Linked DNA regions of Homo sapiens. Changing the gene in region 1 together with any one later gene gives a genetic interaction. Each region holds a gene or a part of one and is shown on either strand. Other genes may lie near its edges.

Region 1 (7,125 bases):
CAATGAAGATGATACCAGCACGACTGCTCAGAAACTGCCAGGTCTGAGCAATCTCATATTCAAAGATACACCAGCGGCTCTGGATGAAGTGCTGGGACACCACAACAATCACCTTTCGGCTTTTATGGAAACCTTCATGGATGATGTTGGCAGCAATGGCCACACCGGGAATAAAGTCTCTGTAGTGAAGGCAGAGCTGAAATGGAGGCACCCCTTCTTCTAAATTCTTTACTAGCTCATTCCTTACCCAGTCCTCATCCTGGCTTGAGTAGATAACAAAGGCATCATAGATGTTTTCACCTCTACCATACTTTATGCAGCCAGCAAGAAGCATCAGGTGAAAATAGAACTTATAGACCAGAACTGCTACAACAGATACTACAAGCACACTGAGGACCGACACACCAATGATGGTCTTATTCATCTGACAGGTGATATTCAAACTCAGCACAGGCATGCCCTGCTTATCTGAAGGTGTTGCACATTCCATTCGTTCAACTTCCACCAAGAGCTGCCTCTGGTCCTTGATCCATTGCAGGAAACTCTGGTGTTCACAAGTACAAGCAAAGTCATTCTGAGTAAGATTTAAGAAAGCTAGACTACTTGGAAAATGCTGTAGTTCCTGTTTTTTGGAAGTCATTATGTGATTGAGACTGTAATCAAGAACCTGGAGGGAGTTCAGACACTTATAAGGAAACGTATCCAATGAAAAGAAGTTGTTGTGGCTCATATTTAGTACCTGAAGACTGGAGAGTGAGTTAAATGCTGTTGGAGACAACTGCTCCAGTTGACACTGAGAGAGGTCCAGGAAGGTCAAGTTTCTCAGCTCTGTGAAGATATCTGGAAGGAAGTTTTCCTGGAAAGAATTGCCAGCCATTTTCAAGACTTCGAGACTGGACAAGCCATTGAAGATGCCATTGAAAGCAACTCTGGTGTGAGTATGAGAAATGTCAAGGTAAATGAGGTTTCTGAGTGATAGGAATACTGAAAACTCACTCATTTGTTTCAAATTGGAATGCTGGAAATCCAGATGTTCTAGTTGTTCTAAGCCCAAGAAGTTTGAACTCATGGTAATAACACCATTGAAGCTCAGATCTAAATACTTTAGGCTGGTTGTCCCAAAATCACTTTGAGAACAGCAACCTTTGAAACTCAAGCCATTTCTACTGAGATCTAGAAACTCAAGGCTTGGTAGATCAACTTCTGAAAAAGCATTCCCACCTTTGTTGGAAGTGAAAGTAAGCCTTTTGAGAGATTTGAGTTTCAATGTGGGAAACTGTCCAAATTTACAGTTAACTAATTCTAAATGTTGCCATCCGAAATTATAAGAAAAGTCTTTTACCCTTTCAATAGTCACACTCACCAGGGAAAATGAAGAAACATTTGTCAAACAATTAAATAAGTCAATAATATCATCGAGGTAGTAGTCTAAGTATGCTAATCGGAATTCTTCAATGGTCAAATTGCACAGGCCCTCTAGAGCAGATTTGTCAAACTTTTCCAAGTTTCCTTCATTTCTAAATTCTCCCAGAACCAAACGATGGACTTCTAAACCAGCCAGACCTTGAATACAAGTTTTCATTACATTTAAACTATCAAAATTATTTCTTAAAGTCAGCTTATGAAGCCTAATTTCTTTAAATGCACCTGGTTGGATAAAGTTCATAGGGTTCAGGGACAGGTCTAAAGAGAGATTGAGTAGGGGCATTTGATGTAGAACCCGCAAGTCTGTGCAATAAATACTTTGAATCTTGTTGCTGGAAAGGTCCAAGTGCTCTAGATTGGTCAGATTAGAAAAATACTCAGGTAATTTGAAAGATTGGATAAGATTGTGAGCCACATTAAGTTCTTTCAAAGTTTTGAGATGTCCAATGGGGAAGTTCTCTAGAGATGCTAGATTTGTCTCCACAGCCACCAGCTTCTGTAAACTTGATAGTCCAGAAAAGGCTCCCAGGGCTAAACTCTGGATGGGGTTTCCTGTCAATATTAAGGTAGAGAGGTGGCTTAGGCTCTGATATGCCCCATCTTCAATTGTCTGGATTTCACACCTACAGGAATAAAAAGACATTGATTATCTAATATTTCTGCTGAATAAGAACCTAAAATAGAATATTAATCCTAGTCATCCAGCTCTTCATACAGATGTGATGGGTCATATGATTGTGCATAGGCAAAGACATCAAGCAGGACAGATGATGATGGAATAAGCAAATAAGAAGCCCCACAGACTGAGTATTATCATACTGGCTGCAATGATAGGCTCTTTTTTGTCATGTTAGGCATACATGATAAGCAGAGGAGAAAATCCATAAGAAGGAAATCAGTTAAAGATCAATAATTGACATATATAAAGATTGTGCAGTTGATAAAGCATGTAATAGCCTTGGATCAAGTTTAGCCATTTTCTGTCACACAAAATTGTGATTATACATCTGATTGGTACAGATAATATGGATAGTTGTTAGTTGGTAGCCAAGATAAATGACTGGTAAATATCAATTTCAGAGATACGAAAAATTACACATAAGTGTCACAGATACTCTTAATGTTTATGAAAAGTGCTTACATGACAGCTAGATATTTGAAAGTTCTTGTTATCAGAGGTAAATGCTTGTAACAGGTGATAGGAGCGAGTTTTGTGGAAAAAAGTGAAAATTATGTGCTATAAGAGTTCACATCCAGAGAACCGTTGTGGACCAAGAAAATCAAAGTAGGTTTCTCTGAGAACACTTAAGTTGAAAATTGAAAGATGAGTAGAAGTTAACAATAAAAGGAGGTGAAGTGAACAGCAAACACAAAAGCCCCAAGGTTGACAGAAAAAAAATGACACAAGGAGGAATCATGACAAATAGCTTCCATGGTTGGAGAACAGAGATGAAATTGGAGTGTACAATATGGAGTTGTGGAGAAAGAAGGTTCCCAATTAGGCAGAGGTTTACCAACCAGATAAAGGGTTTTGAATTTTATCCTAAAAGAAATGAAAGCCATGCTACACACAATGTTCAGAGACATGTCCTAGAGACAGGGCTTTGATGCAGCCAGCAAACAGCAAGCCAATGAAAAATTCCTTTCAGCATTGCAGGTGCTTGTCAGTTACAATGTACAAATAAGTTCTTTCTTAATCCAGCCTGAATTACATTTACAATATTCCCCACCCATTTTATTTAGCTTCTTCAGGAGTTTCCTAGACAATAAAAGCATTGTGGTCCAAGCTTTTGTTATTTATTGGTAACTAGATAAAGGATAGGCAGTATAGTAGAAAGAACGCTGGAAGAGTGGACAAAAGAGCTTGGGTTTGGTGTTTCTGCAGTCCTCTCCTACTGTGTGATCTTGAGTACCTCTTTTCCTCTCTAGGTTTTAGTTATCACATTTATAAATCAAACAGCTGAACTTGATTATTTTTGAAGTTCTTTCTTTCAATTATATGATTGTTATAGCCCATCATTCTATCTCTGCATTGCTCTATACATTAGGTGAGAAGGAAAGGGTCTTGCTGTGTCTCTATATCATTACATTGGTGATAATCACTTTAGAGAAGTAGAGTATTAAGACAAAGAAAACATTTAAGTTGGATTCTGGAGATGTGAACTTAAATCTCTGGTCTGTGGCTAACAAGCAATGATAATGTATATAAGTCATTTAAATTATTCAAGCTTCAGTTTCCTCACCTATAAAAAGAAATATATATATATTTCTATAGGGGAAAGAAGGCTGCCTGGTCTATCACAAAGCATTCTTACAAGACTAGTTGAGTTACTGTATGTGAACACTGTACGAAAAGGCAAAGGATGTCTATTGTGCTATCTTTTGTGCTTGCCCTAATTCAGAATCTCCTATGGGTTAACAAGAAGGGAAGCTGGCCTCTCTGTAAGCACAGATTTAAGGTTTCTGGGGCAAGTTTATTGGGTATCCAGTGGATTGAAGATGAATTACATAAGAGACATTGTTTGGTGAAAAACTACTTCTTGTTTGAAAAAAAAAAAAAGGGAGAGGTGGTCTACCTTAATAGAGTACTTGACAAAATTTTCATGCAGGAAACTGAAATTTAGAACATAATGGCATAGATGCAGCTAGTAGCCATTATCCTAAGCAAATTAACAAAGGAACAGAAAGCCAAATACCATGAGTTCTCACTTTATAAGTAGGATCCAAACATGGAGTACACATGGACATAAAGATGACAAAAATAGACCCTGGGGATTACTAGAGAGGGGATAGAGAGAAAGCAGCAAGGGTTGAAAAACTAACTATTGGGTACTATGCTCACTACCTGAGTGATGGTATCGATTGTACCCTACACCTCAGCATTACGCAATATAACCATGTAAATCCCTGAATCAAAAATAAAAGTTGAAATTATTTTAAAAACCTAATGAAATTCTGTAAGAATACTTTATGCTTATAAAATATATTTTATAAAAATTTAAATATATACAGCATATTAATATTTATTATCACATTTAATCCAGCAGAATAAGTTTCATCATTTCCATTGATCAGATATGAAAACTAAGATTAAGGGAGATGAAGTAATATGCCTAAGGTTACATGGTTATAAAGGTTGGGGGTAAACTTGGCTCAGGTCTTCTGACCCCAACAGGACTCTATGCACTATACCACTGCCTTTGAATTGTTCCATTACTCCTTTGTTACATCCTATCTATATCCAAATTAGAGTATAATAGGTCGTATGCTCACTCTTCTACAGAAATGTCTGCTCTAAAAAGGATTTTTATACTGTGACCTTAGTCTTTATCAATAATTTCTATAATAAAAAATATGTAAAATGTTTTGAAATGTTTTACAAACCATTGCAGAGAACATGATCCATTATCTAGTTCGATTTGCAAATAAGGCCCCGATGATGAAAACCCTTTTAGAATTTGGTTCCCCTAAAATATCAAGATGACATTTCACCTGCCACAACAAACGATATACTTCCCTGCATCAGAAAAGAAAATCTTAGCCATTATTCCCTGCCCACAGCAGATGTTTTCCTTTAATCTTGACATCTTTCTCCTTGGGTTACTTGTCTTTTCCTAATTCCCTATCCTGTACACTAGTTTTAATATTCTAGACATTGTTTGAATCTTATGCAGTTCATGAAATCTTTCTTGACTACCCACCACAGAGAAGGCCCCTCTTCTGAAAAATACAATTAGTTACCTTTAGTTTAAACATAATTTATCACCTACTGTTATATGTCGCTATCTTTATATCAGTTTCCAGATCCAAAAAATCATAATTAAAATGTGTTGACTATATACTATGTACCCAGGACCATACCCAGGACTTTAAGGTATTAACTCTTTCAAGAAGATATGCCTCCTTAACAACAGGGGCTGTGTGTTATATATCAATATATGCCTGTCTTCTTGCAGAGTGTACAACATATAGCAAGTAGTCAATAAATAGCTGCTTATGAAAGAATTTAAGCTAATTTTCTCTCCTGTCTTAAAAGAAAACCTAAAATTAGAATTGCCCTTAGAAGCTGTCTCAGCCAACTGCCTACTTCACAGATTAGAAAACTGAGACCTGGAGAATAGAGGTAGCTTGCTCAAGGTTATATAGTTAATAAGACATCTGTTGTATGAATGAATAAGTGAATGAAGATGAGACTCCACAAACCAAGCTTTCCAGTCCAATAATGAAATGACAGGACAATGAACACCTCACCTTGTGCAGTATGTAAAAGTGGATTCATTACCTGGATAAATCCAGCACCTGCAGTTCTGGGAAACTGAAGAAGCTATAGCTGCCTAAATGCCTCAGGGGATTAAAGCTCAGGTCCAGGTTCTTGGTTGAGAAGGGGAGGTTGTCGGGGATTTTGTAGAAATTCAGCTCCATGCATTGATAAGTAATATTAGGAACCACCTGCAATGATTACACATGACATGAAGTATCTTTACTGCATGGTCTCCCAACTCCCCTCTCCTAGACCAGAGATGGTGGAGAGGGGCCTCTTTTTGTGCAAGCACAAAATTCAGTCAACCTTTCATCCATCTGTCCATCCTTCCATCCATATATCCATCCATCCATTCACTCAATTCATGCTTATAAATTGTCTTACTCTAGATTAGAAAGTAAAGAGCACCTACTACGTGCTCAGCATTCTAACCTCCGTGATAAAACGGCAGCATTTAGCAAGAAGCAATGGAATCGGGGTGAAGGGCTGAGGCTCCGGAGTCTGAAAGCTCTGGGTTTCATGCCAGCTCTTCTGTGTGGTTTAGGGCCAAGTCTTTAAAAACAAAACAAAATAAAACGAACAAAAGAAAAACCTCAGTGAGCCTCATTTTATCATATGTAAAATGTAGGTAATAAAATATCCAATATCGTGCTTGCTGCAGTAGCACATACACTAAAATTGGAAGGATACAGAGAAGATGAGCATGGCCCCTGCACAAGGATGACACACAAATCCATGATGCGTTCCATATTTTCATGATCTATGCAGCAAATCACCATGGCACACATTTACTTATGTAATAAACCTGCATGCTCTGCACATGTGCCTCTGAACTTAAAAGTTGAAAATACAAAAAATAAATAAAATATCCAGTATCATTTTAAATACTCCATATCATTGGGGAGACTGTCTGGCAGTCAAGATGTCCAGACCTTCCTTAGTCATGGCCCAGATTTTGACAACTGCATTCTTTTTCTTGGCTCATTGACCCTTGAGCAAAGTGATGTAGAAATAGGGGGAAATCTTTAGAGTGCATGGATTCCCATGGTGGAACCTAGTAAATAAGGTCAAGTGCTTTATGCTGTCTTTGTTTTTACACTGCTTTCTAGCCTACTTTCCCACATTCTTTGTAAGCCTAATTCTCTAACGCTCCCATCTAATTTCTGAATGCTCTCATTTCCTCCAACAAAATTCCTTGCAGAAGCCAGCTAATTGTAGTTTTCTGTTGTTTGAAACCAATAGAATGTTTGAAGGATTAAATGAGATAAGGTGTTTAAAGAGTTTATTTAAAAGCCCGCTACAGTATAAGTGATCAATAGATGTCAACATTAATTATTATCATCTATCATTAATCCCTTACCATATGCCTGCATAGTTCTTGTTTGTTATATACTTTCACTTAATCTTCAAATAAGCATTTAAAGATGAGGAAAATGGAA
Region 2 (7,000 bases), on another chromosome or scaffold:
AAATTAGCCAGGCATGGTGGCATGTGCCTGTAATCCCAGCTACTCGGGAGGCTGAGGCAGGATAATTGCTTGAACCCAGGATACGGAGGTTGCAGTGAGCCAAGATTGCACCACTGCACTCCAGCCTGGGCGACAGAGCAAGACTCCGCCTGGGAAAAAAAAAAATGCAGATTCCAGTTCAGTAGGTCTGGGATAGGGCCGAGATTTTGCTTTTTTTTTGAGATGGAGTTTCGCTCTTGTTGCCCAGGCTGGAGTGCAATGGTGTGCTCTTGGCTCACTACAAGCTCTGCCTCCCAGGTTCAAGCAATTCTCCTGCCTCAGCCTCCCAAGTAGCTGGAATTACAAGCATACACCACACCCGGCTAATTTTGTATTTTTTTTTTTTTTTTTTTGTTAGTAGAGACAGGGTTTCTCCATGTTGGTCAGGCTGGTCTCGAACTCCCGACCTCAGGTGATCAGCTGGCCTGGACCTCCCAACGTGCTGGGATTACACACGTGAGTCACCATGCCCGGCCAAATTTTGCTATTCTAATAAACTTCCAAATGTTGCTGACACTGCCAGTCCCTAGAACACACTTTAAGTAGCTGTAGTTTTTTTGTTTTTGTTTTTGTTTTTTTGTTTTGAGTCAGGGTCTTGCTGTGTTGCTCAGGCTGGAGTGTGTGGCATGAACTTGGTTTACTGTAGCTTGGACCTCCCAGGCTCATGTGATCCTCCCACCTCAGCCTCCCAAGGAATGAGAACACAGACAGGTGTATACTACCATGCCTGGTTAATTTTTAAATTTTTTTATAGAGACAGTGTCTGGCTATGTTGTCAGGGCTGGTATTGGACTCCTGGGCTCAACCAGTCCTCCCACCATGGCCTCCCAAAGTGCTAGGATTACAGGCATGAGCCACCGAGCCTGGCCCTGAAAATTTAAATTAAGGTCTTAATCCTAGGTGCATATGAAAGTCATTGCAGTGCTTTTTATGTTTATTTTTATTTATTTATTTTTTTTGAGATGAAGTTGCACTCTGTTGCCCAGGCTGGAGTGCAGTGGTGCAATCTCGGCTCACTGCAACCTCTGTCTCCCAGGTCCAAGTGATTCTCCTGCCTCAGCCTCCCTAGTAGCTGGGATTATAGGCGCCCGCCACCCTGTCCCGCTAATTTTTGTATTTTTAGTAGAGACGGGGTTTCACCATCTTGGCCAAGCTGGTCTTGAACTCCTGACCTTGTGATCCACCCGCCTTGGCTTCCCAAATTGCTGGGATTACAGGCATGAGCCACTGCGCCTGGCCAGAGTGCTTTTTATTTTTTATTTTTTTATTTTTGAGATAGGGTCTCACTCTGTCACCCAAGCCAGAGTGTGGTAGCACAATCATAGCTCATATAACCTTGAACTGCTGGGCTCAAGTGATCGTCCCACCTCAGCCTCCTGAGTAGCTGGGACTACAAATGAGTGCCACCACACCCAGCTGGTATTTTTTTTCTTTCTTTTTTTTTTTTCTTTTTGCTGTTCTTGATCTCCCGGGCTCAAGTGATCCTCCCACTCTGACTTCCCAAAGTGGATAAGAAGCATGAGCCGCTGTGCCCAGCCTTCAGTGGGGTGCTCTATTTATTTATTTATTTTTGAGACGGAGCCTTGCTGTGTCATCCAGACTGGAGTGCAGTGTGGCGCAATCTCGGCTGACTGTAAACTCCACCTCCTGGGTTCAAGCGATTCTCCTGCCTCAGCCTCCCGAGTAACTGGGACTACAGGCGCCTGCCACCACGCCCAGCTAATTTTTATACTTTTAGTAGAGATGGGGTTTCACAATGTTGGCCAGGATAGTCTCGATCTCTTGACCTCGTGATCTGCCCACCTCGGCCTCCCAAAGTGCTGGGATTACAGGCGTGAGCCACCCTGCCAGGCTACTTTTGACACCCCCAAAATCCAGCCAGGTGCAGTGGCTCACCTCTGTAATTCCAGCACTTTGGGAGGCCGAGGTGGGAGGATTGCTTGAGCCCAGGAGTTTGAGATCAGCCTGGAAAATAGAGGGAAACCCAGCCTCTATAAAAATTGTAAAAATTAGTTGAGTGTGGTGGCGCACACCTGTAATCCCAGCTACTCAGGAGGCAGTGGTGGGAGGATTGCTTGAGTTGGGAGGTCAAGTCTGCAGTGAGCCATGATCATACCACTGTACTCCAGCCTGGGCAACAGAGTGAGATCCTGTCTCAAAACAAAAAATCTTAACTACTAATAGCCCACTGTTGTCCAGAGGTCTCAGTGATTACATAACAGTCAATTAACTTATTTTTTTATGTGAGCCAAAGATTTATGTCTTCATTTCTTGCATTTGAAGTACTCTTGGATGACATCCTTGGCCTGAGACTCCTTGCCATAGTCCTTAACTACTACACAACTGCAACCAACCACTTTACAGGGTTTCCCTTCTCTCAATTTTACAGAGCGCTACCCATTCCCCTAGTTTCTTGTTGTCATCAACCTTAATTAAGTTGATTTGGTGCTCAGCACAAAGGGACTCCACCAGCTTGACATACATAGGCTTATCACAGTTGGATCAAGCACACAAAGATGGGCTTGGCGCTTGTCTAAGGCTTTGGCAGCTTCACAGATTCCACGTGCTAGGCCATCGTGGATGAGGGCGGTCTTCAGCACCTCTTGTAAAGCAGTATTAACATCCATTACACCTCCAGCAGCAATGCCTCCCTCGGCCATGGCAGTGGGTTATGGGTGAAGCTGAATCTTGAACATACCCAAGCCTCCGCCTCCGCGCAACTCGGCAGTGGCAGGGAAAGGGTGATTAACATATTTTTTAATGTTATATATATATATAATACTATAATCTTACAATAAGCTGAAGAAAAGAAAATGTTATTAAGAAAATCAGGAAAACACATTGAATTTACTATTCATTAGGTGGAAGTGGATCATCATAAAGGTCTTCATTCTCATCGTCTTCACATTGAGTAAGCTGAGGAGGAGGAGGAAGAGGAGGGGTTGGTCCTGCTGTCTTAGGGGTGGCAGAGGCAGAAGAGGTGGTGGAGGAGGTAGATGGAGAGGCAGGCACATTCAGCTGTAACTTTTTTTTCTTTCACTCTGTCACCCAGGCTGGAGTGCAGTGGTGGGATCTCAGCTCACTGCAAGCTCCGCCTCCCGGGTTCACACCATTCTCCTGCCTCAGCCTCCTGAGTAGCTGGGACTACAGGTGCCTGCCACCACGCCTGGCTATTTTTTTTGTATTTTTAGTAGAGATGGGGTTTCACCGTGTTAACCAGGATGGTCTCGATCTCCTGACCTCGTGATCCACCCGCCTCACCCTCCCAAAGTGCTGGGATTACAGGCGTGAGCCACCGTGCCCGACCTTTTTTCTTTTTACTAGCCCCTCAGTGTTTAAAGTTGTAACTTTTATTTAATTAAATTTAATTAATTAATTTTTTTGAGACAGAGTCTCACTCGGTCACCCAGGCTGGAGTGCAGTGGCGCGATCTCAGCTTACTGTAACATTGCCTCCCAGGTGCAAGCAATTCTCCCACCTCAGCCTCCTGAGTAGCTGGGATTACAGGCATGTACCACCATGACTGGCTAATTTTTTTTTTTTTTACCGGGGCGTTCCTGAGTTTACGTGGGGCACACCTGGGTGAGGGCCCTACCCCTAGAAGAAGGTGTTGGGCCTTTTGGTGGTGAAGCGTGGCTTGTGCTGATGGCGCAGGACCTGGTGGGGCAGCGGGAACTTGATCTTGGAGTCTTGGAACTGCTTGACGGCCAGCCGGTGGGACTTGCTGGCTGCTATCTCCTCCATCTTCATGATCTGGATGGAATGGGTCCAGGTGGGGTACCGGGCGCCCATGTCTCGGTAGCACTGGGTGACAGCGCCCGTGGTGGTCAGGTCCCAATATTCCTGGTACATGTTGTGGGTGCTGCTCTGGGAGTTTGTAGCGCAGCCAGATGCCGAAGTTCTTCACCCGCAGGCGGTACTTCTCGAATGCCTGCCCACAGTTGACAGTCTCCCCGAAGACTTCTTCATCTTCTTTAGCTGAGATACAAAGTACCAGAAGTGGGACTTGGCAACGACATGATCAGGTGCAAAGATTCGCATGTGGTAGAGGGGTGGTGTGTGGCATTTGGGAGTGAGCAGGCAGCAACCCACCACCTTGTACTCTTGTAGTGTGCCCGAGGCCTTCATGGCATCCTCTCCATGCTTGCCGCCACCGGCAAAAGGAGCCTGGCTAATTTTTGTATTTTTAGTAGAGATGGGGTTTTGCCACGTTGGTTGGTTGGTCTTGAACTCTTGACCTCAAGTGATTATCCTGCCTGGCCTCCCAAAGTGCTGGGATTACAGGCGTGAGCCACCACACCTGGTCTTATTCTTATTTTTCAGACAGAGTCTTCCTCTTTCGCCCAGGCTGGAGTGCAGTGGCACGATCTTGGCTCACTGCAGCTTCTGCCTCCTGGGTTCAAGTGATTCTCCTGCCTCCGCCTCCTGAGTAGCTGGGGACTGCAGGAGTGTGCCCCCAGCCTGGCTAATTTTTGTTTTTTTGTTTTTTTAGTAGAGATAGGGTCTCTCCCATGTTGGCCAGGCTGCTCTCGAACTCCTGGCCTCAGGTGATCTGCCTGCTTCGACCTCCCGAAGTGCTGTGATTACAGGCGTTAGCCACCACGTACAGCCATAACTTTTACTGAAAAAAAAAAAAAAAATCCACGTATAAATGGACTTATGCTGTTCAAGCCTTTGTTGATGAAGGGTCAACTGTACGTTGCCGATGGGAATGTGAAATGGTGCAGTCATCCCCAAAAACAGTCTGGCAGTTCCTAAAAATGTTAAACATGTAGTTACCATATGTCTCAGCAGTTTGACTCCTAAGTATATACCCAAGAGAAGTATAAACATGTGTTCACATAAAACTTCTACACGAATGTTCATGGCAGTAGTAGTTATAACAGTCAAAAACATTTGGCAAACAACCCCAAATGTCCATCAATTGATGAATGCATAAATAAAATATGGTTATAGCCATACAAAACCTGGTTATATTCCATTCCAAAAACAGTGGAATTGGCCGGGCATGATTGTAATCCTAGCAATTTGGGAGGCCAAGGTGGGTGGATCACTTGATGTCAGGAGTTCAAGACCAGCCTGGCCAACATGGTGAAACCCTATCTCTACTAAAAATACAAAAATTAGCTGGGTATGGTGGCGGGTGCCTGTAATCCCAGCTACTTGGGAGGCTGAGGCAGGAGAATCACTTGAACCCGGGAGGCAGAGGTTGCAGTGAGCCAAGATCATGCCATTGCAATCCAGCCTGGGCAACAAGAATGAAACTCCATCTCAAAAAAAAAAAAGCCCGGGTGCGGTGGCTCACGACTATAATCCCAGCACTTCGGGAGGCTGAGGCGGACGGATCACAAGGTAAGGAGTTTGAGACCAGCTTGGCAACATGGCGAAACCCCATCTCTACAAAAAAATCTATAAATTAGCTGGATGCAGTGGCACACACCTATAGTCCCAGCTACTCAGGAGGCTGAGGCAGGAGAATCGTGAGCCCGGAAAGCAGAGGTTGCAGTGAGCTGAGATTGTGCCACTGCACTCCAGCCTGGGAAACAAAGCAAGATCCTGTCTAAAAATAAAAATAATAAAAATTAAAAAAAAATCTATGCATGAACCTTGAAAACACGTCAGTGGGCCAGGTGCGGTGGCTCACGCCTGTAATCCCAGCACTTGGGGAGGCTGAGGCTGGCGGATCACTTGAGGTCAGGAGTTCGAGACCAGCCTGGCCAACGTGATAAAACCCCATCTCTACTAAAAATACAAAAATTAGCCGGGCGTGGTGGCATGTACCTGTAATCCCAGCTACTCGGGATGCTGAGGCATGGGAATCGCTTGAATCCGGGAGGCGAAGGTTGCAGTGAGCCGAGATGGCACTATTGCACTTCAGCCTGGGTGACAGAGCGAGACTGCATCTCAGAAAAAAAGAAAAAAGAAAAAAAACATGTCAAGTGAAGGAAACCAATCATAAAGGAGCACTTGTGATTCCAGATTCCATTTGTATGAAATGGCCGGCATAGGGAGATCTATAGAGACAGTGGATGAGTGGTTTCTTGGGGTTGGGAGTGAAGGGAAATTGAGTGCTAATGGGTACAGGGTTTCTTTCTTTTTTTTTTTTCTTCTTTTTTTTTTTTTCTGGAGATGGAGTTTTGCTGTTGTTCCCCAGGCTGAGGTGTAATGGCATCATCTTGGCTCACTGCAACCTCTGCCTCCTGGGTTCAAGCAATTCTCCTACGTCAGCCTTCCCAGTAGCTGGAATTACAGGCGTGCGCCACCATGCTCGGCTAATTTTTTGTATTTTTAGTAGCGATGGGGTTTCTCCATGTTGGTCAGGCTGGTCTCGAACTCCCAACTTCGAGTGATCCGCCCGCCTCAGCCTCCCAGAATGTTGTGATTACAGGCGTGAGCCACCGCGCCTGGCCAGGTACAGGGATTCTTGTTGGAGTGACACAGATTTTGTAAAATTAGATTGTAGTGGCTAGGAGTGCTGGCTCACACCCATGATCCCAGCACTTTTGGAGACAGAGATGGGAGGATCACTTGAAGCCAACAGTTCGAGACCAGCCTGGGCAACACAGCAAGACCCTGGGTCTCTGCAAACTATTTTCAAATTAGCTGGGCATGGTGGCACGCGTCTGTAGTCCCAGCTTCTCGACGCTCTGGGGCTGGAGGATCACTTGGGCCCAGAAGTTGGAGGCTGCATTGAGCTATGATCACGCCCCTGGGGCAGCAGGATTAGGGTGCTGTCCCAAGAACAAAGTCTTTGAGTCATCAGCCTGTTTCTTGGGTAAGGTAAACATTGGGGCTGGTGAGTGAGCCACATAATCTGGAGTGTGCCCTCGACCCTGCGGGGCCCTTGCGTCTGTTAGCATCTGTAAGGTGCCAGGCTAATGCTGAATCTTCTTTTGGGCCAGGTGATTGTCTGACAAGCAGAGGCATGAGCTGGGTCCAGGCCACCCTACTGGCCCGAGGC

Evidence for each region. Genes that interact genetically often act in the same process or in processes that back each other up.
Region 2: of TLR4 (region 1) and ECSIT, changing one suppresses a phenotype caused by changing the other (phenotypic suppression), as found in Homo sapiens cells (one study listed by BioGRID).

Annotation. Positions count from the first base shown.
Region 1 is NC_000009.12:117,707,312-117,714,436, reverse strand, and holds part of TLR4 (toll-like receptor 4 isoform A precursor), read right to left. Parts: intron 6,239-7,125; exon of another isoform or gene 6,119-6,238; intron 5,875-6,118; coding exon 5,708-5,874; intron 2,049-5,707; coding exon 1-2,048.
Region 2 is NC_000019.10:11,519,135-11,526,134, reverse strand, and holds part of ECSIT (evolutionarily conserved signaling intermediate in Toll pathway, mitochondrial isoform 1 precursor), read left to right. Parts: intron 1-2,281; exon of another isoform or gene 2,282-2,779; intron 2,780-3,584; exon of another isoform or gene 3,585-4,204; intron 4,205-6,941; 5' UTR 6,942-6,964; coding exon 6,965-7,000.